2 separate regions of the Homo sapiens genome follow, and region 1 is linked to region 2. Evidence: fine-mapped expression QTL. Tissue or cell type: fibroblasts. Region 2 holds a variant in brackets; the other region holds the start of a gene. All regions are shown on one strand. Distances are from middle to middle. Region 1 holds the start of TNIK (TRAF2 and NCK interacting kinase). Region 2 overlaps TNIK (TRAF2 and NCK interacting kinase).

Evidence for each region. PIP is the estimated chance that this variant, and not a neighbour inherited with it, causes the effect.
Region 1: TNIK starts here. The variant in region 2 is fine-mapped to the expression of TNIK in fibroblasts (GTEx, PIP above 0.99).

The regions. Positions count from the first base shown.
Region 1 is chr3:171,453,423-171,469,431 of GRCh38, reverse strand. It overlaps TNIK (TRAF2 and NCK interacting kinase), which reads left to right and starts at 9,027. Exons shown (of 33, transcript NM_015028.4): 1 at 9,027-9,425. The coding sequence starts at 9,369. LOC124906303 (a long non-coding RNA gene) reads left to right here and starts at 11,261. Exons shown (of 2, transcript XR_007096168.1): 1 at 11,261-11,486. LOC102724479 (a long non-coding RNA gene) reads right to left here and starts at 10,214. Exons shown (of 3, transcript NR_189068.1): 1 at 10,041-10,214; 2 at 1,177-1,348; 3 at 1-716. RefSeq lists silencers at 757-806, 9,338-9,397 and an enhancer at 7,826-8,326.
Region 2 is chr3:171,365,452-171,381,460 of GRCh38, reverse strand. TNIK (TRAF2 and NCK interacting kinase) reads left to right here. Exons shown (of 33, transcript NM_015028.4): 2 at 11,776-11,841. Among named protein-coding and RNA genes, the nearest start is that of TNIK, 87 kb to the left of the region's middle. The variant T/C (reference allele first, on the strand shown) is at 6,746.

The DNA of each region.
Region 1 (16,009 bases), 88 kb before region 2:
GCTGCCGGGGAGCTGGAAGGGTAGACTAATTGGACAAAGGAAAATTGGAGCTTTATTTTCTAAAGAAAAGCTGTTCAAGATGATGATAAATTCTTGGGTGGGCCTCTGGGAGTAACTTTAAGTATAATGAGAAACTAAAGTCATTCTAGTGAAAAAGTTTCAATAATTGAGAATTACAGATTTAGATGGATCTGTTACATGAATGTTGAAATCTACTAATAATATGGTATGTATGATTGTTGCTTTTGGGAAATTATAAAAAGCGTACTTTTTGGCCTGGTCCAATGTTGTTAATTTTCTGTGAGAGATTTGAAAAGCATCCACATTCTTAATTTATTGGGGTTGCTTTGCTTTGTTTCTACAAATTCTGAGAGCTTCTGTCTTTTAATAAGGAAGTTTAAATATTTATACTTATTCTGATATGTTTGTGCTTATGCCAGCTACATTATTCTTTGGTTACAAGCAAAAGTAGAAACTAACTCTCGCTAACGTGAGCAAAGGGGAGAATGCTGAGGACACAGAATTGATGGTAAGGCTTGAAGAATATGGTAGGCTTTAGTTTCCAAAAATACTGCAATAGTATCTTCCATCCCACATGCTCTTCTTCAGTGCAACTTAGATAATCCTCTTATTGAAAGGTGGCATCTCTGCATCCTCCCCTTGAGTCCGGGTAGATTCATGACAGTGGTGGAAATGAAGTCGCATGACTTCTGAGGCTAGGTCAGAAAAGGAAATACAGCTTCTACCTGGTTCTCATGGGATGCTTGTTCTTGCAACTCAGACACTATGCCATGAAGAAGCTCCAACAGACCGTGGAGAGACCCACCCGGAGAGGAAGAGAAGCTCCCAGCCATCAGCCCTGGCTGAGCACTCCTGATAGCCTAACACCACACTTGCTAGGCATGTGAGCAAGCCATTTTGGAAGTGGGTCCTCCAGCCCTACCTCATGCTCTGTGGAGCAAATGAGAATTCCCCACGAAATCCTGCCCAAATTACACATTTTCAAGCTACAGAAATGACTGTTACTGTTTTAAGTCATTGAGTTTAGAGGTGGTTTGTTTGTTATAAAGCAATAAATAACTAGCACAGAGAACCAAGTTTGGAAACGAACAAGATACAAGGAAACAAGGCTTCCTATTCCTCGAACTAGGAAAGAGGAGTGGTCTCTAGTCATACCTTATGGGTAGGGTAACACAACTGGAATGAATTAACACTAATCATTTTCAGCCCTGCCATTCTTCTGAAGTTCCAGGTTTTGGTGAAGGGTCCTTCCACTGTTCCAATTTCAGTCACCTCCTCACCCTTTGTCTACCAATGAGCAGAAAACCTGAGTGACAGCCACAATAATCTGTAACCAAGGGAAAAGAGACAATGATTTAAAAATAAAAATGGATAAAAGAAGTTTGTATTCATTTTTTTAAATCACTGCTGTGACAAATCACCTCAAAATTAGTGGCTTTACTTAAATAACACAAATCTATTATCCTATAGTCAGAAGTCCAAAATGGGTCTTTCTGGGCTAAAATCAAGATGTTAGTAGGGGCCAGGCATGGTGGCTCATCCCTGTAATCCTAACACTTTGGGAGGCTGAGGTGGGAGGATCCCTTGAGCTCAGGAGTTTGAGATCTGCCTGGGCAACATAGTGAGATTTCATCTCTACAAGAAAATTGAAAAATTAGCCAAGCGTGGTGGCCTGCGCCTGTAGTCCCAGTTACTTCAGTGGCCAAGGTGGGAGGATCCCTTAAGTGCAAGAGATCAAGGCTGCAGTGAGCTGTGATCTCACCACTGCACTCCAGCCTAGGAATGCAGTGACAAGTGAGCAAGACCCTGTCTCAAAAAATAAAATAAAATAAATGAAAAGGGCCTGCTGCAGTGGCTCATGCCTGTAATCCCAGCACTTTCAGAGGCCAAGGTGGGAGGATCATCTGAGGTCAGGAGTTCAAAACCAGCGTGGCCAACATGGTGAAACTCCATCTCTACTAAAAATACAAAAATTAGCCAGGCATGGTGGCACATGCCTGTAATCCCAGCTACTCAGGAGGAGAATCACTTGAACCCGGGAGGCGGAGGTTGCAGTGAGCTCCACTGCACTGTAACCTTGGCGACAGAGCAAGACTCCATCAAAAAAAAAAAGAAAGAAAGAAAGAAAAAAAAATGTTATCAGGGCTGCATTCCTTTCTGGAGGCTCCCGGGGACAATGTGCTTCCTTGCCTGATTCAGCTTCTAGTGGCTGCCCATATTCCTTGGTGTATGTGTGCCCCTTCCTTCATTTTCAAAGCCAGCAATGTTATATTTCTCAGTGCCTTTTTCATATTACATCTTCCTCTAACTCTGAGTCCTTTTCTGACTCCCTCTTTTACTTTTAAGGAACTTTGTGATTACTTGGGTTTACTCTGATAATCCAGGAAAATCTCCTCATCTCAAATGCCTTAACTGAATCACATCTGCACAGTCCCTCTTGCCTTGTAAGGTAACGTAATTACAGGTTCCAGAGATTGGAACGTGGACGTCGATGAGGGGCCATTATTCTGCCTACCACAGTATACCAAAGCAGAATGGATACTGGGTGGGCCCCACCACTCTAAAAACTTGTTCTTCATACTACTCATTCTGGTTGATATTTTTTCTTTTCTTTATTTTATTGAATTCATAGTTACTCTTGTTTCATTTTTTTTCCATTCAAGTAGCCTGTACTTTAAACATCCAATTTGTATCCATCTATGTGGTGACCTTATGTTTATTATGCATAATTGATATACTTTTCTGTGTTTAGAGATAGTATCTATATACATCTCCAAATAAGACAAAAAAATCTTAGCATGCTTTTCCTCCTCTTCTTGCCTTTTATCCTTGTGATAACATCATTTAGTTATAGACTATCATTATTTATTTTTATTAACTAGCAATGATGAAAACAATTAAAAATTTAAAATTTTCTATAACAGAAAGTGGTTGGGTGCAAAAAACAGAATACTCCACTAAAGCTGACTTAAACCATGAGAAAAACTTATGTCACACAAAAAGAAATTCAAAGACAGTTTGTTCCTGGGTTAGTTAATGTAGTGATTCAATGGTGTCATGCAGGATCCAGGTTCTTTTCATCTTTTCACTTTTTTTGAAGCTCCTCCCACCCTGGTAGGAAGAAGACTTCTATAGTTCCAGCTATTATATCCTCACACAACCCTGTCTGAAAATAATGTATTAGTTATCCCTTCCTGCATAACACATCAAGCAACTTAAAACAACAATAAAGTTTATTATTTTAATAATATGATTTCTGTGGGTCAGGGATTCGGGAGCAGATTGGTTGGGTGCTTCTAGCTTAGGATCTCTCATGAGGTTTCTGTCAGAATCAGCTGAGACTGCAGTCATCTGAAGGCTTGACTGGGGCTAGAGATCCACTTCAAAGCGACTCATCAACATGGCAGGCAGGTTGCATGAATATCTGTGGGACAAGATGGCTGGCTTCCCATAGAGCTCTGGTTCTTATTGTGGGTGATTTTTCTCACCAGGGGGCATTTAGCAATATCTGGAGACGTGTTTGGTTGTCATAACTGGAAAGTTGCTATTGATATCTAGTGGGTTGGAACTAGAGTTACTGCTAAACATCCTATATGACACAAGACAGCCTTTCACAACATGAATTATCAGGCCCAAAATGCCAATAGTGCTAATGTTAAGAAATCCTGCCTTAGAGCAAGTGAGCCAAGAGAGCAAGGTAAAAGCTGAAATGCCTTGTATTACCCAGCTTTGGAAGTCCTCTGTATTCCATGTTGGAGGGATCCACACAAGGGTGTGAATACCAGAAAGTGAGGCTCATTGGAAATCATCTTGGGCATAGCTACCATGGGAAGGAAGCTTTTCCTGGCCATTTCTCTTGTTTTGTCTTCTCTTCCTTCCTTCTTCCTTCATTTCTTCCGATCTTCCTTCCCTATTCCTTGTTTCCTTTTCTTTTTTCAACTTTCAAAGAGGAAAACCATTTCTTTTCTTTTCTTTCTTTTTTTTTTTTTTTTTTTGGAGACGGAGTTTCGCTCTCGTTGCCTAGGCTGGAGTGCAATGCCGTGATCTGGGGTCATCGCAACCTCCGCCTCCTGGGTTCAAGCAATTCTCCTGCCTCAGCCTCCCGAGTAGCTGGGATTACAGGCATGTGCCACCACGGCTGGCTAATTTTGTATTTTTAGTAGAGACGGGGTTTCTCCATGTTGGTCAGGCCAGTCTCAACCTCTCGACCTCAGGTGATCCGCCCGCCTCGGCCTCCCAAAGTGCTGGCATTACAGGCGTAAGCCACGGTGCCCGATGGAGGAAAACCATATCTATAAGCCCTACCAGACTTCTCTGCACTTCTCAGTAGTCAGTGTTGAATGATATGCCTATGTCTAAACCAATCATTAGGAGAGAGAATAGAATGGGGCTGGGGAGAATCTATATGTTTTACACACATGGAGGGTAAATTGTCAAAATCGGTGTTTTACTAGTAAGGAAGAAAGAATGGCTTTGAGCAGGTAACAGAGTTTGCTACCTTTGTTTATCATTGTCTTTTGTAACACACACTTTGTTTTTGGATTCAGTTTACTCTTTGGTGGAAGACATTCTCTAAAAGTAATTTCAAGGATGGGCAGCAATCTCAACTCTTACATATCTGAAAATATGTGTCATTATTTTGTACCCTCTCTTAAGTGCTAATTTAGTTTGGTAGTCTAGGTTAAAAACAATTCCCTTAGAGGCTGGGCGTGGTGGCTTGCACCTGTAATTCCAACATTTTGGGAAGCCGAGGTGGAATCCCAGGAATTTGAGACCAGCCAAGGAAACTTACTGAGACTCCAGCTCTAAAAAAAAAAAAAAAAAAAAAAAAAAAAATTAGCCAGGCATGGCAGCACGCACTTGTGGTCCCAGCTCAGTTATTGGGTGGTGGTGGGGTTAAGGTAGTTAAGGTGGGAGGATAGCTTGAACTCACTGAGGTCCTGCAATGAGCCAGCCACACACTCCAGTCTGGGTGACAGAGAGAGACTGTGTCTCAAAAACAAAACAAAACAAGACAAAACACCATTACAATGATTTCCTTAGAATACTGTTCCATTGTCTATTAGCATCCATTGTTGCTGATGAGAAGGTAATCCAGTTAAGATTTACTTTTTATCCTTCATGCTCTGAAATCTCACTGTGAGGTGTTTAAGTGTGTTATTTTTTACCTATGCATTTGGCTCAGAGCTAAATGAGAGCTTTTTACTTAAAGATACTGGAATATTTTCTTTTTTTCATTCTTGTTGCCCAGGCTGGAGTGCAATGGCACGATCTTGGCTCACTACAACCTCCACCTCCAGGGTTCAAGCAATTCTCCTGCCTCAGCCTCCCTAGTAGCTGGGATTACAGGCATGCATTGCCACACCCGGCTAATTTTGTATTTTTAGTAGAGACGGGGTTTCTCCATGTTGGTGAGACTGGTCTTGAACTCCCTACCTCAGGTGATCCGCCCTCCTCAGCCTCCCAAAGTGCTGGGATTACAGGTGTGAGCCACCGTGCCCAGTCAAGATACTGGAATATTTTCTACCATTTTTTGAGTATTTCCTTCCATCCATTCTCTAGATCCCTTATCAGATGAATATTGGGCCTTCTGGATTTATTCTCCATGTTACTTAAATTACTTAAATGCCTTGGACTAGGTAATTTATAAACAACAGAAACAGAATTGCTCACAGTTCTGCGGCCGGAAAGTCCAAGATCAAGATATCAGCGGATTTGAAGTCTGCTGAGGGCTCCTTTCTCACAGATGGCCCCTTCTATGCATCTTCATGTGGTGGAAGGGCGAACAGGCTCCCTCAAGCTTCTTTTCTCAGGGCACTAATCCAGTTCATGAAGGATCTGCCCTCATGATCTAATCACCTCTTAAAGGTTCCACCTCTTAATACTATCACTATGGGGGTTAGGTTTCAACACATAAATTTTGGGAGACACAAACATTCAGATAGAACAAATGCTTAGAAAAATATCTGCAGCATAGTATTACTTATTATTCAAATTTTCTATTCATTTTTATAAAGAGGGTCTCCCTCTGTCGCCCAGGCTGGAGTGCAGTGGCTTATCTTGGCTTGCTGCAGCCTCAACCTCCCGGACTCAAGCAATTCTTCCACCTCAGCCACCCTAGTAGCTGGGATTGCAGGGGTGTACCACTATGCCCACCTAATTTTTGTATTTTTTGTAGAGATGGGGTTCTACCAAGTTGCCCAGGCGGGTCTCGAACTCCTGGACTCAAACTATCCTCCCAACCTGTCCTCCCAAAATGTTGGCATCACAGGTGTGAGCCACCACCGTGCCTGGCAGAAATCTTTAGCAAAAAAATTAGGTATCATTGTTGGAGTCTCCTTTTCCTCTTCCTCTTTTCTCATTATCCTGAAGTTAATCTGTATCCTTACTGCCTGTATCCATGCTTTATATAGTTTACTACATATTTATACATATGTAAACAGCATAGTGTATTATTCGGCAGGTTTTCAAACTGCACATAAATGGTGTCAGTTCTCTTAATCCTTCAGATTACATCAAGAAAAAAATCTCAAGTCTTGAATGTTTTTCCTGGTATTTGCTATTCTCTCTTTTAACAAACTAAGAGTAGGCCTTAGGCTAGAAGCCCAGAGCAGGAATTGATGGCTAGCTAGAATTTAATAATACTTCTTTATTTTCCATTATATTTATTTTAATGGTTTCCTCCCCCCTTTTTTTTTCAAAGCAAGTGTTGTTGGCTTTCCATTTAGAGTAGTGATTTATGTTTTCTTTTATATTAAGTGTAAGAAAAAAGTGTTGATTTAAAGAAAAATGTTAAGTAAGTGGTAAAATAGTACAGGCAATACAGAGACATAGGAAAAAATTAGGAAATTTATACTGGAATAGCTGAAATTTGATACACACTTGACCAAAAGGAAAAAGTTCAAGTTCCTCCTTCTCACCTTCCTTTACCAGTTGGAGGTCCCTTTGATACTGCAATCTCTCCTTTTATGGTATTTCCTGCAGCCCACACCCCTGCCTTCCCCTGGCTGTCTCATCAACTTCTCAGGCTCTTAGGAAGCCCTCCTCCATTTAGCACCTGGCATCATACTGCATCTATAACTTTCTCATCTAAAACTAAACTAAATCTGAATGCCAACTTGGCACCCTCGTGGCCCAAACAGCTCACTAATGTCAAAAAAGTTGATCTGTTTGTGATGTTTCAAATATAATCATGAGTATAAAACGAAGGCTTTCCATGGAAAAAATATTTAACTCATATTTCCTTATGTTTGCAGTTTTAAAAAAATAGTTGTTTATAGATCTTAATACTTGATCTTAAATTATCTTCTTTCAACCCTGAGACAATACATTAACCTGTTGTCTAGATGAACGGTAAAAAAACAGGAACACAGAAGAGAAAAAAACAAAGACAATGATGGGAAATAATCTGTTTTTTTTTTTTCATTTCGACGTGGTGGCTTACTGCACGTTACTTACTATGTCGAACCAGATGATTTTAGTAAAAAATGAGTTTAGTAATTTAGTATAACACGTTCAAATGTTTACATACAACGTTTACAGGCAAAAGCTACCAAACTGTTGTGGCCATTGAGATGTTGGAACAATTTTCAAGTTTCATGGTGCATGATCCACAATGCATATGAATACATACAATATCAGTAACAAAAACAGTACAATGTACACCAAAGGTTGTTTCAAAGTCCTCTAATGTCTGCAGTCATGATGAACTAACTGCACTGGCTTTCATTCATTCATTCATAAGACTTATTTTGAAGCTGATCTTCATACTGCATGATTAAGAAACCATCAGTGCAGTGGTCAGAATTACATTCTGCTGTTAACAGAGGAGCAAAGAATGCTTTCAAAGCTACTGCTGTATTTGGAAAAAAGTTCAGTTTTAGTGTTTTCTTTCTAGGTATTTTGCATGGCTAAGGCGGGAGAAGAAGGGCTGCGCGGGGATTGGGGGAAGCGACTTCCCACTCTTGATTACAGAAGGAGAATCATGTATACCACTGTAAAACATCCAACCTTTAAATGAGAAAGTGAGTGAAGTGAAATCGCTCTCACGTACACATCTTCCGCGTTACTTCTTATCCGCCAGCCAAACTTTCTCCATCAATCTGGGTAGGTCTGCCACGAAAACGCAGCCTGAAAGAAATGCTGAGTCCTGAGGCGGCGTGTGTTGCCTCACCCAGTGTTGGCTTTGGAGTTACCTGAAGCCTTCTAGCTACTGCACCCAGAGAGCAAGCTTCTCGTTTCAACTCGGTTGTTTCCGTGGGGAATTGCGGCACGAGCAAGTCCTGGGTGTGGCGATGCCAAGAGAGCGCTCAGATCTCCCATCTTTCCCGCTTCTGGCAAACCTTCCCAGCCCCGAATCGGCGAGTGACCAGCACCCGGGATCAGCCGTCCGGCATTCCGGGGACCGCGGGTGGACCCGACCCCGCCGCAGCTGCAAACTGCCGAAGCGCCCAGCTGGGTGCACTGTGCGTGTGCGCTTCTTCCCTACTCTTTCCGCGCCTGGAGGCGGATCCCCTTCCTTGCACACAAGTCCTTATATGCACCGGTTGCACCAGCCCGCGTTACTCCGGCCCCACAAATAATTAATGGGGGAGGGAGGGTGTCGCTTTTTTTTCCTCCGGCTTTTTCTCAGCGCGAGAGCATTTGAACCGAGGAGAAACCCCAAGACGCGACTGAAGGGCCATTTTGCTGCAGTGCACGAATTGGCCACACAAAAATAGAGCTTGGGTCCCTATGATAACAAGTCAAGGTTCAGGAACAGCCCCTTCGGGTTCGGCCCGAGGAGCCCGCAAAAGCCTGGGCGGAAAGGGTGCGCGCCCCTCCCCCCTCCACGCTGGTGCAGAGGGACCGGGTCAGGAAGCGCGGCCTCTCCCCAGTCCAAGACCACGCCTCCTCCGCCTCCCCACTCCCCCTTCACTCCTCCCAGGAAGCGGTGATAGACAGTTCTGCGTGGTTCTCCACCCCCACCCTCCCCCTGCTGAGTGGAGGAGTTGATGTGTCTCATTATAACAGCCAATGCAGCCGCCATCCACGCACAAGCAAAGAAGCATGTCCCATTTAAATACACCCACGCAGCCCCAGCGCCCTTAGCCGATCGGGGCGCTCAGCCCACACGCACCGCTGCTCGGGGCTTGGAGATCCGCGCAGGCTGGGCTCCCGGACCCGGCGGACCGACGCGCGGAGGATCGGGATCCGGCGCTGTGGGGCTGGGGTGGGCGGGGGAGGCTGGGCCCGGGGCCTCTGGCGCGACACCCGCATGAGGACGCGAGTGAAATAGACCAAGGTGGAATTTCCAAGGGAAAAGCTTCGGGGTGGTTTTGGTCCATTTCTCCAGCGAAGAAGTAGACATGGCGAGCGACTCCCCGGCTCGAAGCCTGGATGAAATAGATCTCTCGGCTCTGAGGGTGAGCAGGACGTTTTCTGGTTTCTTTCCAGTGGTTTGGGTTAGGGTGAATGGGCTCGGTGCGTGGACTGGGGGCTGGGGCTGGGGCAGGGGGACAGCAGCGGGAGAATGCGTCGGGGAGGGAACCTGGATTCCCGTTTTGATTCGGGGTTGCTGAGGTGCTCCTGGCTGAGCCCCTACGGCAGGGGCTGTGCGGTACGTGTCTTCCTCTGGCCGTGGCTTAGGCTCTCCCGAGGGCTCGTAGAGCTTATGCCAGTTTCATCTTATACCGGTGTAAGAGCATTAAAATGAAAGGCGTGTGTGCGTGTGTGTGTGTGTGTGTGTGTGTGTGTACACGCCCCGGGCAGTTGTCTGGTGCCAAGGCGCGAGACCCGACTGTCCCTTCTGCAAAAAGAATGCCAGCGTGAATAAAGGCACTGGCCCCTCACGTTTTCCAGCTACCTGCAAGATGACATTGTGAGGCTGGCTGTCCCCGCGAAGCCGAACCTGCCGCTCCAAGGGGGCAGTTATTGCTATGCTGGTCTTGTAGATGGCAACTGCCTCCCCCTCCCCCTTTTCTACCTCCCGCGCCCGGGCGCCCTCTCAGCGCTCCCTTAAATGCCAGTCTGCCACTCACCTTTATTTATGGCTTTAACTCAGCCCTGCCTGTTCTTTCTGACTTTGTGGCTGTAACGTTTCAGTTTTATGGCTGAACTTAAGCAGGTGAAAGGGATGTGTTTTCTGCTTTTCCTCAATCAGACCGGAACTCCCTGGAGTGTGTGCGAGTGTGTGTGTGTGTGTGTCTGTGTGTGTTTTCCCCGTGTCTGTGGCCAGTCCTTTGTAGAGCACCTCCCTCCCCCCAGCCCCACTGGTTTGCGTTTACCTTCACGTGAATTACCTCAGACGCCGTTTCATTGTATTGACTAAGACATCACTGATATAGAATCCATTTTGCTGTTGTTTTGAGATCAGAATACCAGGAATCCAAGTGCTGCTTCGACGCTTCCCCACCCCCAACTCCCGATCCCAACACACTCCTTTGGGGAAGGGGGCAGAGCTTTCTTGCCATTTTAATTAGATGCTGCCTGCCTGGAAGGGGGTGAGGGGTGGGGATGGTGGCAGCAGCGGGTGTCTGAGAAGGATTGGACACCAATTTAAGGACTGCTTCTTCCTCTCCCGAACCAAAAATAAAATTAAAAAGAAAGCGAGTGCATATACTTGATGTATGGAGGGTGGATGAGAAGGAATTCATGGTGGCTCTCTACAGGGAGACACCAGGATGGATGAAGCATGGAAGTTCACACGCCCTCCTGAGGAATACATTGTTAGATTGATGCTGAATCTTGGGGCCATTTACCTGGATTCCTAGTACTTCTGACATTGCCGCTATCTGCACTGATATATTAAAGTGCTACCTTTGTGATCAAAGTGGTACTTTCTCTTTGGTCTCCTTAATTAAACCTTTTCCTCCACATCTCTTTGAATAAGTCTTTCTCTCTTCGTCTTAATCTGTTGGGCTAAGAGATGAGGTTTCAGCAAGGCAAGTAAGGAGTTGAGAAGAAACAGAGATGCCGTTTGAAATGGGCTGTTCTGATAGTTGGGCAGCCAAAGCTCATTCATGCATTATTACAGGAAGCTGTCTATTTCCCTGGAGTGGAAATGCCACATCAAGAACCGGCTGCCCCCTGCGCAGCGGGGTGGGGTTGGTAACAGGGTGGGTGCATTGGCCAGGTCTGTGGCTTCCTGCTTTACCGACTGTGTGTGTTCATTTGCCCTACTTTCTACGCTGGGAGTTGCTGCCGGCGAGTTAATCAGGTGGATGGATGGCCCCGACTGGGGGTGGGGTGCTGCGAATCGGTCGGAGGTCGGGGTGGGGGGCGGGAAGTGGCAAAGGGGGAAGGGGTCTGAACAATGCGCAGGGCTTGCGGTGATTTCCCTGGGCCGGAATCTCGACCTTGCTCCTCTACTGGAAAGCAGTCTGATGTGATTTTAAGTTGGGCCGGGACTTGTCCCTTATGGGCTTTTTCCTCGGGAAGGTTTTCTGAGATACCAAGCACGGAGCCTGCAGGCAGGGGAGCAACCGGTGAGGGCCCACTGGGCGGACGACTGCGGTTCACACTTGGGATGTGCTTTCTTGTGATCTGTATTTTGAAAATATATCTTTGCACAATTCACTGAAATTGCTCTTTGTGGCCTGGGCTATCAGCTTAGGGCTCTGCTTCTGTTTTTCTGCCTGCTGGGAGGTGTGGAAACAGAGAGGGCAACAGCTAGCTTGGGGACCAGGAACTGCTGGCTAGAAGACTTAGATGCAGATGTGGAGACAGTTATATCCTGGAGGGCCAGGGTCTTTGACCAGTCTTGTGGGTGAGGTGTGTCTGCTGGAGTGGGTCCAAAGGCCACATAGGTAATCTCCACAAATCAGAGGGCAGATCATCTCCACCTTGCCACATTTGGAGAGGTGGCCTCATCTAGATGAGATGTCTCATTTGTTCCTAAGCCCTTGGTAAAGTCTGCCTGCTGAGCCCCTCCTGGGGAATGCCTGACCCCTGAAATGCAGCCAAGGTCAGTGGCTTCTGGGAGAATTTGCTGCAGACTTACCAGTCCCTCGCTGTTTCGGTGGCTCTTTAATGTACACAGTCAATGCTCTTTTTGTAAACCCTGGGCTCAAAGCATTAAAAGCAGATCCTGTCTAGAGAGGCCTTTATCCTTCTCACTTTGGGGGCTTATTGTTCTCAGCCAGTGATTCCAGACCGGACCCAGTCTAAATTTTCCCCAAATAGCAACAATGCATAATTTAAACCAGAGCAACCAATGACAGCACTGATCATTTAAATTATGCAAGATTTGCATGGTTTAAAAGTGAGTGAAGCAGGATCTTCTTTGGTTAGAAAATAGGTACTTTGAATCCAGTTTTAGCCCTGATTTTTAGAGCTCAGAGATAAACTAAATCTTGAGGGATGGGCTGGAATTGTTTTATAGATTCAGAGCTGGAAAGAGAATTGTAGAACACTCAGCCACTCCTTTCATTGAACACTTGGGAAACTGAAGCCCAGAGGCGTGAAGTAAGTTGTTCAAGGTCACACAGTAACAAGGGGAGGGGACAGCGAGGAGCGTGGTTTGAGGAAATAATCTAGATTTCCTGACTCCTCATTCAGTGCTCTTTTCTCTAAGTCACACTTTCTGTGGTGGAATCAGAAATCAATAATACATTTTCTGCCTGAGTACAAAAGAATAGCAGAAAGGAATAATTTCACCAGGGTCAGGGAATTTTATTTATTGAGAATGGCGAAACTACTTCATGCAAGTAAGCTTGTGATACATGAAACCATGGAGCTCTAGGCCACCTTTGGAATTCATCTTGTCCAGCCCTGGTTCAATGCCTACTCTGCAGGCAAACGACTGTCTGAAATCACCTAGGACACATGGTTGTCCTGCACAGGTAACCTCTCTGAGTAACCTGTGTCCATCAGAGCATGTCTCAAGGGGTCAGTATAAACATACATGTTATTCAGATGGCTCTGCATGTGAGGTTTATAGAGTTGTGTGTATGTTTTGTATTATCTATGTGGATACATATATTATGTGTAGTATTATGGATATAAACCGTATCCACGTGGGTGTATGAAAATGTGTGTATACATACATAGGCTACAGCAAACAATTTACTCATTCAAACCTGGGGCTTGAGTCATTCTTGCTTCAAGACATCTCAGTATTAAAAGAGATGAAAGTTGCCACCAGTGTGCTTTATTACATATGAGGCGAGCTCAGCCCAGAAAGCTTTTTGGAGATTAGCATATTTCTGGACCTAAGCACCTTGGCTGTCCTTAACTTGGCCCACAGGGTAAGGCATTCAAGGCCAGGAGTTGGCTGCTGCTGACCTCATACTCTCAGCTTCTGCCAGGACTCACATACACTTTTGTATTTGAACAAAATTAGATGATCTACACTTGTCTTTCCCCTTAGCCCTCATTCCCTAGCCATTCCTTTCTCCATTGAAACCCAGATTTAAGAATTGACCTCATCTGAAAGCCTTGCATACATCCCTTTGCTACACTTTTCATGCTCATGTTTTACTTGGTGTGTGATTTCCTTTCTGCTTCTTTACTAAACCGTGGACTTCTTGAGGGCAGAGGCTAGATCTTGTTCATCTTTGGAGCCATAGTCTCCATTAGTTGGATGAATGAGTACGTGAATGAATGCTTGAATGAATGGAGTGGAATGAACCCTGTCTCCCCAGTTCTATGTCCACCTCTTATTCACTCTGTGACTTTGGGTAGGACATTTAACCATAGTTAATAAGAATCATCACAACTGTTTGCCTTTCTCACATACTGGTTTCAAAATCAATAAAGTATTTAAGGCAATGCTTTAAAAACCATACAGCACTGTACAAATATGCTATCCCATGGTTAAGTAGAATTTAGTGGGAAAATTGATACCATCAACATTTGATTGCAATGATTTTATCTAATAGAAAATTATCTTTCCTGGGCACAGTGGCTCACACCTGTAATCCCAGCACTTCGGGAGGCCGAAGTGGGAGGACTGCTTGAAACCAGGAGTTTCAGATCATCATGGGCAATGTAGGGAGACTCCATCTCTAAAAAAAAAAAAAAAAAGTCAGTGTGGTGGTGTGTGCCTGTGGTCCCAGCTAATTGGGAGACTGAGGTGGGAAGATAGTTTGAGCCTGAGAAGTCGAGGCTGTGATTGTGTCACGGCACTCCAGCCTCAGTGACAGAGTGACATCTTGTTTAAGAAAAAAAAAAGAAGACTAAGAAAAGAAGGAAAATAATCTTCAGAAAAAGATATCAGAAGGTTCCGACTCTTTTTAACAGTACCTCCACAGACCTTAGCTGCCTTTTTCCTTTTGTGTACCAATGTGACCTTGTATGTTTCTTTGATGGCCTGAATTGAGCTTTGCGCCCCCAGTATTAAGCATTCATTACATATGAGGTAAGTGCAGCCCTGAAGTTTTTTGGAGATTAACATATTTCTAAACTAGTATCAACTATCAGCATTGTTCATTAAAACCTTCTTTTTTAAAAAAAGTTTTCTCTCTTTATGTATTACCGATTATTCAAATACAAACACATTGATCATGACTGTGCCTTCCTAAAGTTTTATCTTTTCCCTTGGGAGATAGAGTGGACACATAAAATGATACACTAATGGCCCAGTATTTAAAACTTTCTGGTGAGAGGTCTCATGGGGCTCAAAGAAATCTCGAAACATTATTAGTTCATTACTCCAGAGCACTTAATTAAATTTGGTCTAAAATGAGATTTTAGTAAAGTTGCATGAGTTGATAACAGTATCTCAAAATGATAACAGCATGGCAATTTTTTCATTAGATATTCTTTTTATTTTTCAGAGATACTAAACAGGTGTTTTCTTTACAATGGCATTGCCTCATAAAAAGTAGGGTGTGCTGGTATTTATCAGAACATCAGAGAAATATGCATAATCATTTTCATTATTCATTATTAACTGGAGTAATCTTTAGTACAAAAGCCAGTGTAAGTCATGGTTTGCTGTTTGCATAATTATCTACTTAGGAGGTCATGTAATATTTTGTTGATGAGAGAGTACCCAGTACATTTCTTTCAGGAAATATTCCTTTTTTCCCCCTTATCTGTAAAACTCTTTGATATCTTATAATTTCGAGTCTTGCCCGTTCGGCCTTTCTTCTTTCTGTGTCTCTGCCCTGGAATTAATCTTCCGTGCCCTTCTTGTTTCGACGCCATTCCTTCTCTCAGTGATAGTGGTTCTAAAGTCCACCCAGCCAGGCGCTCCTGTGATTGAATCATGGCCGCCATGCCCAGCTGAGCACAACCAGTCTCTGATTCCCTTCCTGATAGAATCTGGAGTAACTTGAGTCTGAAAGATGCTTTAATGTCAAATTGATTCTTACATTTCTGTGGGGGAAGTAGCTCTCTGAGAACAGGGCCTAAACTGGTTTGTTAGCAGTGTGCTGAGAATTCTAAGAAAATCTTAATGATATTTTTTGAATGAAATGTTATTCTGCACATATAAATATAAGGTCTCTAGTGGAGAGAGAGGGAGGACTTAAGTAGAAAATGTTGGATGAATTCCGCTTGTGATTCCTTCCAGTCTGGTTGGAAGCTTATTTCCCTTTAGAGAAACATGATTCTATCCACTCTTTTTTACATGTCCTGGTTGTCTCATGGGGGTGCCCTCAGTTTCTCAAAACACATTTTATATCACCCCAACTTAAAATTCTTCCCTTAATGTTTATCATATGGGTCCCCTTGTCTCCACTGTTCCCTGCAAGTGCTGTAGTTACTGTCCCCTGGGCAACACCCGCAACAGGACCTCCCCTCCTCCTGTGTCTCTACCACCAGCCTTCTTCTGACTGGTTTCTCGTACACTGTAGCCACGTGAGTCTTCCAAACGCACAGTTTCAATCTGGTTGTTTTTATTCAAGGCCTTCTCTGTCTCCTTAGTCTACAGACTGAAAACTAAACTCTTTAGCATGTTAAGACCAGCGGCAATTCAGAGGGGCCTCCCACCGAGCTCTGCAGTTTTGACGACCACTCCCCCATTGCGGCAGGGAACAATTTCATTCCCCCATGGATGCTCTGT
Region 2 (16,009 bases):
TTAGAGGAGATACAAAGCTTCCTTAAGGAGTGTTCTGTGGCCAGACAAGTTAGGAAAATATGAAAAGCTTTGCCCTGTCTTGGAGATTCACAGGGTACATTAACACATTAAAAGCTTTGAGAGGCCTTGCAGTAAAGAAACCCCTAACCTGCTAATCTTTTTAACCTAGTGTTCCCAAACTTATTTGACAGTGGAAATTCAACACCCATGGAAATCTGGAGGGACAAAAGGACTGGCTTTAGCTTCTTGAGTCTGCCAAAAAGCTTTTAGATCCTTGAACAGATGGTATAAATCCCCCGTTCCAAAATGTTATCTGCCTTGCAAAACTAATAAGCAAGCAAATAAATTTGTATGTCCTTCACGGTGGCCTAGCCATAGATATAAAAGCTTGAAAAAAAAATAGATGCAAATGAAGCCCTGTTATTAACATCTGTATGAGATTTATAAGAGTTGGTATTGGTCAGCCATCTGTACCATTACTGGTGACACCAAGTGATGGACTAAGATTGGTTTGTACCTCTGCCAGATGACAGGTCCCTGCTCCAGGTAGCTATTATTGGGCTCCTGGCTGTTCCTACATGGCTCTGGGCCATCTCACCCTTCTCTGGAAATGGGAGAGTAACAGATGATCTAATCAACCAGCCAATATTTCCCTACTCATAGAAAAGTCCTGGGCCCTTGGCCGAAAGGCATTAACCCTGCCCCTTTCAGTGTGCACAACTCTTGCCCTCATCAGAGGTTCCCTCTGCAAAGGGCAAAGAAGGAAGCTCACTGTATTGTGAAGAGGGGTGGGGACAGGTAGGCAGCTGGTAAAGGGGGCCTCATACTCCTATTAGACTTAGAATAGAGTTAGGTCCCTTTTACCTAAAAGTTTCACCTCTGCCTGTAATCAACTTCATGGTTGCTTATAGGTGTAGGAAGAACAGTTGAAAATTCTTTCAAGCAAATAACGTGTCATTGGTCTGTTGTAAGCAGGTGGTAAATGAGTATCTCTGGGGGAATGGTCCCGTTAAGGCTCTTCTTCCAAAACAGAACCTTGAATTGTTTCCTAATCTTTCTTTCTTAATTATTTAGGTAACCAGCTCTTGTCTTTAAATCCATCTCCTGCAGTTGCTATCTTTTTCTTCATCTAAGTATCTTCAAAAAGGCAAAAGGCCAAAATATTTGCTAGTCTGGTTCCCATCATTTCCACCTCGTTTTGCTGGAAATACTGGAAAGTTACCCTGTCCTGACAGGTCTGGAAGGATCCCATGTTTGCAAATCTTTGTAAACTGTATGATACATTTTCCCAAACAGCTGTATAATCTCTGCAACAACCTGATGATGGGAGGGAAGGGACCAGGTTGAGCAGGGGCTGGGGTTGGGGGTGGTCATGTGCATATTGACCTTTAAAGCAACTTGCGTGTGTGTGTGTGTGTGTGTGTGTGTGTGCGCGTGTGTGTGTGTGTGTTTTGACCAAGTTTCGCTTTTGTCGCTCAGGCTGGAGTGCAGTGGCGTGATCTCAGCTCACTGCAACCTCCACCTCCCTGGTTCAAGCGATGCTCCTGCCTCAGCCTCCTGAGTAGCTGGGATTATAGGCGTGTACCACCACGCCCAGCTAATTTTTGTATTTTTAGTAGAAATGGGGTTTCACCATGTTGGTCAGGCTGGTCTCGAACTCCTGACCTCGTGATCTGCCCGCCTCAGCCTCCCAAAGTGCTGGGATTACAGGCGTGAGCCACTGTGTCCGGCCTGCATGTATGCTTCTTAAAAGACTTTTTTAGAAGAGCTGAGAAAAATTACAGGAGGTGATGGAGAGAGCTATCCTTCTCCAATATCTGTCTTGTGGCTTAGTACCCTGAAGAGTTTTCTTAACTTGCCTTATGGAGTTGGTGTGCCTTTCTCTGACTCTGAATGTGTTAGAAAACAGTCTCTGAACACACAGTTGGGGCTTGTGCATTCCTTGTGTGCACAAGCAGGTTTGTAGTCGTGACTTGGGAATTTCAGGTCAAGAAGCATGAGAAGGGCTGGCCAGTGAATCCCAGCAGCTGACAAAGGATTAAAATAGCTGTGCTATGCACCAAAATCAGAAAAAATATTCAAGTCAGTGTTACAAGAAGTCCTTGGATTGTTCTCTTTTTAGTTTTATATTCTTAGTTGTATATACTTATTTATGCAATGTAAGCTAGTAGACAATAATCAATTTATGTAGAATTATTTGTTTTCATCTGTAAGGAAATAATTTTGAACTGAGCTAACTGTGAGTATGAATATGCTAAGTCTGTGAACCGAGAAAAATATATTTTGAAAATATTATTTATCTTTTATGCTGATATATATGCATGTGACCTACTAAATGGACTGTCAAACTGGCCATGTGCACTAAATCTTCTTACATCATTTCTGGAAATGAATGAAATCGATTTCTTAACCCAACTACCTAGATTTTGCAAAAGAACAGCAGGGCCTGCCCATCCTACCTACTGTCCCTGTTTCCTTCCTTTCCAGGTCCACTTTTTGAAAGGCAATGGGTGATTCCATCGGTTTACTAAAGGGTGAAATCAAACAGAAGGAAAAACTAGAAGTCAAAAGACATAGGTCTTCATTTAACTCTGCCACTAACTAGGATAAGACCTCAGATAAATCACCTAAACTATCTTGCTGGAGAAATCTATAACTGCATAAGTATATAGAGCCTGTCTGGGCCTCTCTTTGCTCTTCTGTAAAATGGGTAGAGATATTTTATTGATATGATCTCAGAAATCCTCGCTGCAAATGTCACAGACCTTACCGCATTGTGGCTGTCGGTGGAAGAAGTGGTGATGTGAGGACTTGCTCCATCCAGATAATATTTATTGAATATCTCTGATGTCCCAGTCATGATCGAGGTATTGGAGATACTGCAGTGGACAAAACCAATAAGAGTTATTCATTCTTGGAGTAAAGAAATTATTCTTTCTTGAGTAAAGAATTTTTAGCGAACACTTTTTAAGCACTTACAATATGCTAGATGTTGCTTTACACATTTTATATATATTAATTATTATATCAAGTAATCCAGCAAAGTGGGTACTACCATTATCAGTATTTTATAGTTGAAGAAACAGGCATAGAAAGATTAAATAACATGCCCAAAGTCATATGGCTAGAAAATGGTGAAGCTGGGATTCGATTCAGGCTTTTGGCTGTAGAGTCTGTGGTTTTCACTATTATGCTATACCGCCTCTCACTGTCAATTAATTGGTTAGCTTAAAGTAATTAGCATTCATCCTAGCTAATGGCAAAGTAGGAAAAAAAGAAACTAGCTTTAGATAGAAATCTGAGAGCCTGTTTGCTCTCCCTCTCTGGGGCTTCTGGCTCTGATAAGAGGCAGGGACACCAAGCAACCATGGTATAGAAAACTTCTATGCTCCCAGCCATTTGGCTCATTGTGGTTTCCTGTCCTGAGGTCACTGCCCATTCTCTGGCTCTATTGTTAACCCACAAGGCCTTCAGCATCCCCGTAACCCCAGGTTAATTTCAGCATTGGCCATTTGTAGAGAAATGAGTAATAATGGACTTGGATTCAAAATACCTGGATTTGAATCCTGGCTCTACTATGAACCAATGTTGTCATCACCTTGGGAAACTTCTCTTAATACCACCAGCAAGAGCAGTATGTCTGTAGCCATTATTTATTAAGCACTGCCATGCATTGTGCTAAATGCTTTATATATGTTGTTTTGGATTCTCAGAACCATCTTCCATGACAGGTATTTTTACCTTTACTTTACAGTCTGGTCTTGGCTGCTGTCTCTACCACTTACTGTTTAATCTTGGGCAAGTTACTTAATTCCTTGACGCCTTAGTTTTATCATCTGAAAATTGGGGTTAGTAATACCTATTTCTCAGGTTGCATAAGGAAGAAATATGAAAATGTATGAAAAGCATTTAGGCTATGGCCTATCCCAATGACAACGATAATGCCTATTATAGCTTATTGTATAGCTTAAGGTTTTGCAGTGATTAATCCGAGGAGTGATGTTTCAAATCCAGTTCTAAAGGCCGACTTTGTGAGGACAGGCTGGAGCTGCAGGGTCTTGAGTGAAGCAGCTGAGCGGGGAGGGTGATCTAAAGCAGTGTCACTGCTGGCTGCTGCACATTAGCAGGTGAAACTAAGCAGACTGCAAACCAAACAGGAGGTGAGGAGGCTCCAGTCTCCCTGTTCTGAGAGATGAAAGCCAAACTGGAAGCTACCAGTATCGAGGGTTAGTTCCTGGAGGTTTGGCTGTGTTCTGCCAGTAGCCAGCTGATCATTGAGGAGCTGGTATTAGTAAGAGGATACCAACACTAGCCAGGAACAGCTCTATCGGAGCAGTTTGTGTCCTGGAATCAGCCTACACTCAGGACAGCCCTTCCCAAAAGACGATGCTTGACACAGGGAGCTGGGGAGTTACCTAGAACATTCATACGCAGGATGCGACATTGTAAAAATGCAGGCCAAAGGGCACTTTCCCAAATTACAGATGAAGAAAACTGGAATATGAGGGGTGAAAGAACTCTAGTAAGGAGTGGAATCCAGACTTGAACCCTAATTGTTTTGGACCAGTCCTGTGATAGGTTTGCATAGTTTAATTTGTCCTACACTGATGATCAAGTAAGAAAAATCAACAATCAGTATTTTACCTACCTATAGCCATATCTCTCTCATCTATCTATCTATCTATCTATCTATCTATCTATCTATCTATCTATCATCTATCTATCTATCTGTATATATTTATGTTTTTTACTTGAATTATCTATTCCAGTTGAGATGACTTCTTTGGGCCAGCAGGTTAATGAAGATATGCTTCTGGGCTATATTCCAGATCTCCTGGATCAATACTCTTGGAGCACCTTTTCTCATATGCTGCTTGTCGTTATGATGATCTAATCACTATGTACGTGTAGTAAGTTGCTCATGTCTGCTTCCTTCCTTAGATTGGAAGCACCATGAAGCAGGGGCCATGTACCCCACTGCCTCTACCTTGGACAGTGTATAACACACAGTAGGTGGCGAGGGAGGGTGCCAGGTAGCAGTCAGGGATTAAATAAATCTTACTGTGTAAAGCAAGACCTTTGACTCTGCAAACCTCTACTGCTTTAGAAGAGGGGAAGTTAAAGTAAAAAATTACCTTTGAGGGAACTTGCCTGGCTGTGAGTGCAGCATAAACTAGAATCTGGGGGTTGTTGAGTCAGCACAGTTTCCTAATGCTGTACTTTCGAAGATGATGTTGAAAAGCCTGAAGCCTCAAGATAAATGTGGAGAGTTCTCCTACTGTTCCTGTTTTCTTTGTTCTGTTTTGCTTTTGTAAGCATATGCTTGTCAGTTAGGGCTGAAACCAAACAAAACAGCTGCTAAATATGGTTCTAAAAGAAATAACATTTTGGTCTTCTTAAGGCCCGTAAGTTTAGAGTAAGCACAGTCGTTTGGCAGATGTCAATAGGGAATCCGGGGGTAGCAGTCATTCTGGGAGCACTATCAGCCATCCGTATTCTGTTGGGTGTATTTTACCCTGCCAGAGGACTGGTGGCCTCAAGTAAAAGATTCTGTCACAGAACGGCTGTGTCTTTAAGAGGCGTTTTGGAGGAGGGGTGTCTAGAGTCTGTGTAGGCCATTTGCTCATGATCCGTGTCAATTTCATTTTCAAAGAAGTGGGGAGGCATTGGAAAGAATATGTATCATCTTTTATGATGTGAAGGAAATAGTCATCCTAGTTACAGACTTAAGTTTGCCTTTTTCAATCTTTGGGATTTAGCCCAGTGGTGTTATTTAGTGTTCTTATAAATCCAGTATCATTCAGAGGACCTGGAGGAATTAAAGCATAACCTAGTGGCAGGGAATATCAAACCCTAGATCTTAAATCTCTCCTCTCTGCTGTGAAGCTGGGCTTGAGCCTGCCAATGCCATCTAAATTTCATCAGCTGAAAGAAAGAGTATTTATTTCAACATCCAAGGAACCCCCAAAACTTAATGCGCCTTCTCAATTGTCTAACTAATTTTTAAAGAGACATACATTTTGTCCATAAATACCTGACTCTGTTTGCTAAGCATGTGGTGGGTAATATTATTGGTTGAAAAGCAATAGGTTTTCGTTTACTGGCCAGATTAGTTTTATTGGCTTTTTTAGTTGAAAATCTATAAAATGCGGACTGAATTTTACTGTGGCATATTCTTTGTTTATTACATGAACTCATTTTCAAAGATGAAAAAGAAAAGGGAGGAAGAAAATGAATATTTATTAAAGTCCTATTACATATCAGGCCCCAAGCTAGTCTAGACACTCACAGTTCTCATTGTATCTCCCAAGGGAGGTAATCCTGTCCACATTTTAAAGATGAGGAAACTGAGGTTCAATGCAGTTCTGAAACTGGCTCAAGGTTAGAGAGCTACCAGGTGGTAAACCAAGGGCTGGGGATTATGGTTCCATGAAGCTATGATATAGTGATTAGGAACTCAAGGTTTGGAGTCTGACCATCTGAGTCAACATCCTGGCTCTGCCGCTCATTAGTAGTGTGACCCTGACTAAGCATTTAATCCCTCCGTGCCTCCATTTCCTAATCTGTAAAACAAAGATAATGATAGCATCCACTTGATAAAGCTGTGATAAATGAGCTATTCATGAAAAATGCTTAGAATCGTTTCTGACACATAAGTCCTCATGAAATGTTCACTATTACTGTAATTTTTATTGTCATGACTAACCAAGTTTGCTTTTATCAGTACTGGCTGAAAAATTACATT[T/C]TCTTTCAAGGAATAGTCTACCTTTTGATATGTAGTTATATTTCATTATGAAATAATGTAAACTACTCTACCTTAGAATTAAATTCTCTTCTCACCCTCCCAGCAAAGGTTAAGATCTGAATAAAGGCATGTGTGGCCAACAGGGATTCTTGACTTTGGTAAATGTCAATGATTTGCTCTTTTCTCCTTGGTGTATGTAACTTTCTTCCATGCTGCTCATCCTGGCTTTAAGAGCAGCTAAGCAAACACAAGAGGGAGAATTAAGTGGATTTCTTATCTCTTAGCTTTCCTGTCTTTGTAACATGATTATTAGGTACAGCTTCCTCTCCTTGCTGCACATTCTGTTGGCCACATTCTGACAGCCTGTCTTCTCAATGCACGTGAGGCACAGTTTACTACAACAGGCTCTATGGATTTTATTTTTTTAAGCTGGGAATACTACAGGGGCTTTTACATGTGACAGTTTTGTCCATTTGGGATTGGGGTAAGGAGGATAGAGGGCACAGTGGTAAAACAACTTGTCTAGATTTAAAAGAAATGATGTAAGTTTGCTAGACCTTTGGCTCTACATTCTGATCCCATTTTTTGTGATTTGCACTATACATGTCTTGAAGAATTGGGAGTGGGACATCAACCTTATTCAGTAAATAGTTATATCTAGCAGTTATGTATTGGACAGCATGCTAAGTGCTGGAAATACCAAGATAAATATGTTACAGTGCTTGCTCTTGAGGCATTTGTAATTCATCAAGGGAGAGAAATGTAAGAGAGGCTAGCACTATGTGAAAATGGTTATCATAGAGCTGTGCACAACATATTGCGGCTGCAGAGAGAGAGAGGCAGTGACGCTGATTTAAGAAGGGCTTCAGAAAGGAGGCAGCAAGCTGGGCTTTCAAGGATGGGCTTGCCTCATAAAGAAAGCAGAAGGAATAATCTTGGCAGATGGGCAGTATGAACCAAGAGCTGAGTGTGGTATGTTAGGGACATGAGGGACATGTGTTGGTTATAGTACAGAATGATGGAACACAAGGCTGGGAATCGAGGCCAGGCCTAAGAATGACATGACCTTGACTTTCAGTTTGAACCGTATCTTGTATTATTTTAAATCATGGAGTGTCATGATTAGAAATGTCTGTTTTAGAAAGATCAGTATGGAGAATAGCTTAGAAGGAAGAAAGAATTAACTAAAAGCAAATGGTCCCAGAAAAAGATGATGAAGCCTGTTGTGTGAATGGAGTGGAGTAGATGGATATGGTGGACATTTGGAGATAAGATCATTGACACTTAGTGAACAAAATTAGGGGAGTGGTGGACAAGGGTGGAAACTTAGGGGAAGGTACCTAGAAGGTGTGAGCAGAAGAAATATTATAGAATCTGTGAGAGAGACTAAGAGGTATGATAGAAGATGGTGGAGGGATATATTTTCAACAGGAGTAGTGATGCTCAGGAGTATAAATGCCTCAAAAGGGACAACTAGGACAGGACTGAGAAGCAACCACTATGTGTAAGAAATTGAGGTTCATGGTGACCTTTTGGGGAAATTACTTTAGAGGTACTCTAGAATGGAGAAAACAGCTAAATGCTTATACTGTTCAAGCTGTATCACAATTCTACAAGGATGTAACTAATGATGAAATGCATTTGTGTGAAAGACTATTCACAAACATTCAGCTCTCCAGGCGCTTGGATTGGGGGAAAGAGAGAAGAGAGCCTAGGGTCAGTACTGAGGTGTCACTGAATAATACCTCTGACTTCCATATCTAGGGTTTCAAAGAGCCCCCTCCTTGCAAATACCATGACTCATGCTATTTTGCTTTGTTACTCTCAGGATACTGTAGACTGTAGATGCTTATAGACTTCTCTTTTGATTCCAGACTGGTTCTTATTTCTAGCCATGGTGCTTGTAGTGTATGTTGTGGTATGTCACACAGAGCTCAGTTCTCCACTGCTGAGGCACTCAGTTGTCCACCTTCTGGGAGTGTAGGTAGCTAGGGATGACGTTCATCTGAAAAATGTCCTCAGCTGAACAGTGTCAGTTCACCTAAGATTGTTACCTCTGGGACGGGTATTGGGGGGCATCCCACATGCAGTGACTAGTCAATGGAGATGGGATGCAAAGTCCTGATGCTTCCAGGTAGGATAATTCTCCAGGGCTGTCCTAGCTCCAGCACTTCCATGGATCAGATGAAGTTTTTGTTACCACTACATTTCAGTTCAGCTCTTCCTTTGGCTCAGTCCAGTTCTTCCTTTACTCCCCGGCAGGTGTTGATTCTGAGGCATACCCCAATAAACTCACACAGTATAAATCTCAGGGAGTCTCAGGTTTTATTCCTGGGGAACCCATCTGATATGATGATTCTTTCCAGTTTGGTTGCCTATGCAAGGCCAGTTGCCAGTAGAACTCTTTAGTTCCTCTGAACTTTACTTCTGAGGCCCTTGGATGTGTCCAGCAAAAACCTTCTCCTAGCAGTTTGAACTAAAGGCTCAGCATTAAGCCTCCTTGGTTTTGATTGGTTGGGACATATACCCAAGAATAGATTATTCAAGGAGAGAAAAGAGCCTCACAAGTCAGCTGTCCAGATCTTCCTGAGACCTACCTACTAACCCCAGCTCTGAGAGGGGACCCTGAGGCGAGTGACCTTTGGATGTAGAAGCTGATTCCTGCTCTGCACCTGTTTGTGCTCCTGCCCTCATCTCACATCCCTGTTTGATTCCCAGGTTCCTTGAGGCAGCCACTCATCACTGTCCTGTATCTCTTCTCTTTCTGTTATTTTTTTTTTAGTTAAGAAAAATGAATGTTGAAAACACAATTGAGCTATTTCAAGCAAATGTAGGACTTCTCTCCAAATATGTTGCAGAAACACCACCAAGCAAACAAACTACTGGGAAGCACAGCTTAGAAACAAACAGCAGCTGCCACCATTTATGGGCTTTTTTTTTCTTTTCCTCATTTCTTTCTAATTCCATTTGTAATAAAACCTGCTGCTCTAATGGCCTAGTAGTTTAACCAACAAAATTTTTCTTCCCGATCCTGAGGCCTCCCAGGTGGCCTTGATGGTGTCTTCTAACTATGGGGTGTTGGTCGACTCAGAGCTCTAAGTCCCTTAAGAGTGTTTTCCGGTTTTGTGGTTCTGTCTGGAACCACACCTCCCAGACCAGGTGGGGCATAACTGGAACTTCTGGACTTCTGGATTTTTCAGGACATGAGCATGGAGTGTGGTTTCTTGCCCTTCTGGCTTTGTAAGAGCAGGTAATGTAGTGCTAACTCCAATCTTTCTCAGTGACTAAGTGCTTAATCTGTTGGGTGCTTTGTTTGCTTTTTGTTTTTGTTTTTATTTGTTCTCTGTGTGGAATCTTTGAAGGCACCTACGCAGGGGCTTTTCTTGAGTTTGATTTACCACAGATTGGACTTTAAAGCATCCTGACTTGTCAGATCAAACTCATTTTTCCCTTTCCCCAGAATAGCAGATAAACTCATTTTCCCCTTCCCCCATTTAAATCCTGCTGGTGGTGTGGAATTTCTCAGCTTAAAAGTGATTACTATTAGGTGTTAATAGATTTCCGACTACTTGAAAGGCATTGTGCAAAGCCCACACTTATTCTTCACAAGAGCATGGCTAGGTAGATGTCATCCCTGCAGACCCAGACAATATGTTGCTTTCTCGGGGTCTCCTAGGATCACACAGCTGGTCAAGGCACAGCTGGTATTTAACCCAGGTCTCTCTGAATCTGAAGTTCAGGCTGTTCCCTCCCTGCCTCTTAGCCACCCATTGTAATAATATATGGCATTGCTCTTATGTAAGTGTCCAGTAGAGACAGGCCAAAGGCGCAGTCTATTTTTATTTGTTCCTAAGAATGTTTTTTAAATTAAGTGCCTAAAACTTAAAAAATAGGAGATCTCACATTAAATACAATGTTCAGTTTCTCTTGAAAAATCTTTAGACCTGGCAATATTGTGCTCATATGTTGACAAGACAACAAGTGGCTCCAGCTAAGTAAACTCCACCCCACCCCACCCTACCATACCATACCCTACCTCCCTCAAGGAGGCTCGGGTTGCCCAGTTTGCCACAGGCCCCAACTGGACCACTTTACTTGTTTATGTTACTGGCCTGGCCTCTGTAGACATTTAAGTTTGTGACTCCTAGATTTATGCCTTTAAAGAAGCAATTTCTGTCCAGTTAGGAATCAGTAAGGGGTGAAAGTCAATTTCTGCCTCTGAATAGAATTTTATTGGCTTTGATTTTTCTTTTCAACTTTTTGGGATAGTAATTCAGTTATAATAGCAGTAATTTTGGATATTTATTGAACGCTGTAACATTTAGCTGACTCCTGGGGTTAGTGGACAACTGATTGGTGGTAAGAACTTGAATAATTCTCCAATTTAGTTTGCATTCTAAATCCTGCAGTTACTCAGCAGGTACTGCAGGAACTGGAGGCTATCCTCAAAAGTATATTTTGTAGAGGCAGTATTACAGAAGAGATGAATCCAAAGAAAAACTTTCTGAGAGAGGTAGTTAAGTTGACTCTATTTTCCCTTGGAAACTGTTGACTACCATAGGTAAGATTGCCCCACAATGCACGAACACCCTTCTTAGCTACCAGGGCTCACTCAACACAATGAACAGCTCGGATATTTCAAAGAGAAATACCCTGGAACATTAGAACCTTCTCAGGATGATGAGTCTTTCACTTTATCTTGCTGTAGCTCCTGCAAGTGTGTTTTTCCATTTAACAGTGAGAAATGTGTTACTTCTTTTTTATTATTTCACTTGAAAAAGCATCTCCTTTTGCCTGATTTAAACACATTTCATAGAAATGTAAAATGGAAAGAAAATAGAACTTGGCTAATTTCATAGCTGCAGCTGACTTAAATTTTAAAATTTTGATAGTATTAAATGTTAACACATGAGAGCCCCTGAAGCTAAAGTTGTTATTTATTTGCTTAATTTAAATAAGTATTTGCTTTTGATTAAGGCAATGCCTGGAATATTGTTTTGAATTTTTATTGTTTGTTTATTTTCTTTCAGGACCCCGCAGGGATCTTTGAATTGGTGGAACTTGTTGGAAATGGAACATACGGGCAAGTTTATAAGGTAAGTACATTGAGTCTGAGAGTGGCTTATGTACGGTTTCAGTTCATGAATGACAAATTGCAGTGCTGTCTATACTGGCTCATAAATGGCTCCTAACAAATTTAAAATGAATTAATATACTTGTTGATTGACTCTCCATCTTTTAAAATATATCTGTGGTTATGTTGCTTAAACTGGATTCTGTGATTTGGGTATTTCCCTTCATTATATATTACTGTGTTTGTATGTGACACATGAATTCTGATGGCACATATTTGAAGCTCTTCAAGCGTTCAGTTTCCTTTACTTAATCACTGCCAGAACTGGTTTTTGAAAGAGAAAAGAATGCCATCTACTTCAGAAATTTAAGCTATTAAACTATTACAGCTGGAAAAGTAGATGTGTTATTGGCCTAGGACATGAATTAAATGAGTGGAGTGAACAGTGTTGGAAGAAAACTGGGTTACCTCACAAAGCAAAAGCTTAATAGCAGCGACGAATTTTAGGAAATAATTAAAAGTTAAACTTGAGTTGAGACTGAGCTGTGGAATAAGAAGTCTTGCTTGCCTGTGTACTAATTTCTGCTTACAAATTCACTCAAAAAGTGTTTTTAAAAGGTATTTTCCCCAAGTATAATCTACGAAAAATGGCTGGTTGAAAATGTGAGTTGATTCCTTTTCTGATTGTCAAAAAAAAAAACAAAAAAAATGAAAGTGAACTGTTTTTGGACTGAAACTTTTGGGGTTTCATTGAATGAGCTATTGAAATGCCATCAAAACAAACCAACTGTTTCCTCATGATAATTTCTAGGGAAATATCCATCATTTTCCCTAGTGGCAGCGATATGGGATGGCATTTCCATTACAAATTATCTCGTGTTCTATTTTTAAAAATTCCTCCTGAGCCCTAAACTTCTCTCAGTTAATTAAATTTATTATAGAAATCATTCAGGTTGTAATATTTTCAATTCTGCAGAATGTCAAAAGTATTATTTATAGGGTATTCTCGAGATTCTAAGTGGATACACATTTATATGTTTATTTACGAGAGGTTTCCTTTGGTGTCCAGGGGAAAATTCTCCCTTGCAAGAAACGATTATTTCCTAAATTGTACACCTTTTACCATTAGACAGAATGTAGTCTACCCAACCTGCTCACTTGACGTTGATCCTGTCTGACACAGAAAGAAATGTGTCTCAGCAAAGGCTTTTAAATACTTTCAATGAAGATAATTAGGTTGGAAGATTGTGTTACTGCATTTTGAGAAACTGGATTGAACTTGTGAAGTAACTAATGAATTAAGCTCTGACTTAGGTACAAAATTACTTCTGATTTGCTGTCAATATGAAGGAGCAACTCTGTAGCATGCTGTTGGTTTTATGGTGCCATTTCTTAGAGCCTTTCCGTTTCATTATGTTTCCCACCCATAGAATATACATTTGGGAGACATTTCACAGCTTGGTACACTAATTCAAGAGGTGAAACTCTGCAGTCTTATAAGAGGAGATACCAAGAGATTCAATTAAGGATGAGAATATTTGGAAAATCCAGAATTATCCATAATTTCTTGTTATTTGAAAAAGGCAAGGAAACAAATGGCAAGAGGTCTCAGATCTTTTTAGAGAGGGAAGATATTTAGCAGCTAGGTTGTCAACATTATTATTCTAAAGGATTCCATTCTCTTGGTGGTTGATACAGTACTATGGCACCTTCCAAGTTTAAGGGAGATTCTGCAAAGAATGGTCATGGTGAATGCAGTGAACTTTGGGACAGGAGATTTGCTCTCTTTTACCAGCCCCATTGTTTTGTAGCCACCACAGCTTTTCTGTGTATTAGTCAAATGAGAATGTAGTTAGAGATGCTTTGGGGCCTGGCCAGGTGCGGTGGCTCACGCCTGTAATCCCAGCACTTTGGGAGGCCAAGGCAGATGGATCATTTGAGCTCAGATTTCAAGACCAACCAGGCCAACATGATGCAACCCTGTCTCTACTAAAAATACAAAAATTAGCCAGGTGGTAGTGGCATGCACCTGTAATCTCAGCTACTCGAGAGGCTGAGGCAGGAGAATCTCTTAAGCCTGGGAGGCAGAGGTTGTGGTGAGCCGATATCTTGCCACTGCACTCCAGTCTGGGCGAGAGAGTGGGACTCTGTCCCCTCCCCCCCCCCCCAAAAAAATGCTATGGGGCCTTGTGTTGATTTACTTAAAGAATTATAACTCCCTACCTACCTATTTAAGGGTTTGGTTTCTAGGCAACCAGACGATGTTAGGTGGCACTGCTCATGAGCAGACCCTGTGTTTCCTGAGGCCACTAATCCAGTCCTGCTGTCATTCTGAGTTCTAAAAGATTAAAGTTTAATAAAATAGCAAAATACGAGCTAAAAGATATGTGAGCCTAAGTAAATTACATTAAAAAGTGATTGCACTATAGATTATGCAACTTTTATGGAATATGTATGTTTCTAAAATACTGTAGGTATAAATAGAAATGTTATAGCTCTAGGAGGAGGTCCTTATACATAAAATCATATGATAAGTATTTTCTTTCTGTTAAATACTGTATTAGTCTGTTCTCCCGCTGCTATGAAGAAATACTTGAGACTGGGCAATTTATAAAGGAAAGAGGTTTAACTGACTCACAGTTCTGCCTGGCTGAGGAGGCCTCAGGAAATTTACGATCATGGCAGAAGCCACCTCTTCACAGGGTGGCAGGAGAGAGAATCAGTGCCCAGTAAAGGGGGAAGCCTCTTATAAAACCATCAGATCTCATGAGAACTAACTCACTATCATGAGAACAGGATGGGTGAAACCGCCTCCATGATTCAATTATCTCCACCTGGTCTCTCCCATGACACATGGGGATTACGGGAACTACAATTCAAGACGAAATTTGGTTGGGGACACAGCCAAACCATATCAAATGCTAAGCCTTTGATTTTAATTTTTAAAGTCTCTCTTTTGGCATTCCTGGTTTTCATAAAGTCAGGTATAATTTTATGAATAAGTATATGGACATAGCCCTTATTTTATGGAAAAATTTATTATAAGTTTCTTTTTTATAAGCTGCCCTAAGAGAGTCATAATATAATTTTGTTTACAGGTAGTTTTAAAGAAACATACTTAATATAATAAATAAAAAGTATATGTAGGTATTCAGAGAACACCTTGAAATATATCTGCATGTGAGTCAGGTACATCTAGATATAGAAATATAAATATTTTATATAAAAGCCATTTAATAATGTTTAGTTTTTCAAAGTTGCTTCTAGTCTTACTCCCAATTTTAGCTTATTCCTGTTTTGGGCAAGGTTAGATTTGTTTATCTTTAGCATTTTAGTCCCATCTAATCAAGTAGTGATTCAATGTCTGTTTTTTGCTTTATTTACCGAGGAGCATAGGTAAATAATAAAGAATAGTGATTCACTCTCAGGACTTTTAATGAGGAAACCATCTCCTTCTGTTCATGGCTGCATTAAAAAATAAACCAACAAAAGGCCACATACCCATTTACTAAAGGTCTTGGCTGTTTATTGGCATGCCATCTATTGGGAACCTAATGGAATCTGGACACATTTTTGTTAAAATAGAGTAATTCTTTTAATAAATTGAAATAATTGTTTAATGTTTACTGGTAAGATACCACTACAAATTAGCCACAGGTTTTAAATAAATGTTGGTTTTTCCTGTCTCCTAATTTGCCCTTTTGAATATAGATTGGTTATTACGGAAATGAAGACATATTTTATCCCAGGGTGATAATGTGAATTAGGAATATGAAGGATTCCTCAGTATTTCTCATATTTCTTTTCAATACTTCTTAAGGTTGTAAAGTGCAAAGTAGGGAGGCCGTCGTGGTGGCTATTGTGCTTAAGAGAGACAGATGCTGTGAGTGTGTATATTTCCAGCATGCTATAAGAGTCTTCATAGTCCTCATTCTGAGTTCTCTGCCAGCTGGCTGTTCAGCCCATCCTTCATGACCTCCAGTCATGTGGAACTCATTACTTTTCTGTCAGTCCATTTTCCTGCAGTTCCTTTGAATGTTATCACATTGTGCTGAGATCCTGCCTTCTTAAAATGTTTACCATTTCAACCCCATTTCATACCTCTAGAGCTATTTAAAATTTAAAATTAAATATTCTTTCACAAGAATGTAGAACTTTTGGGCCGGGCGCGGTGGCTCACGCCTGTAATC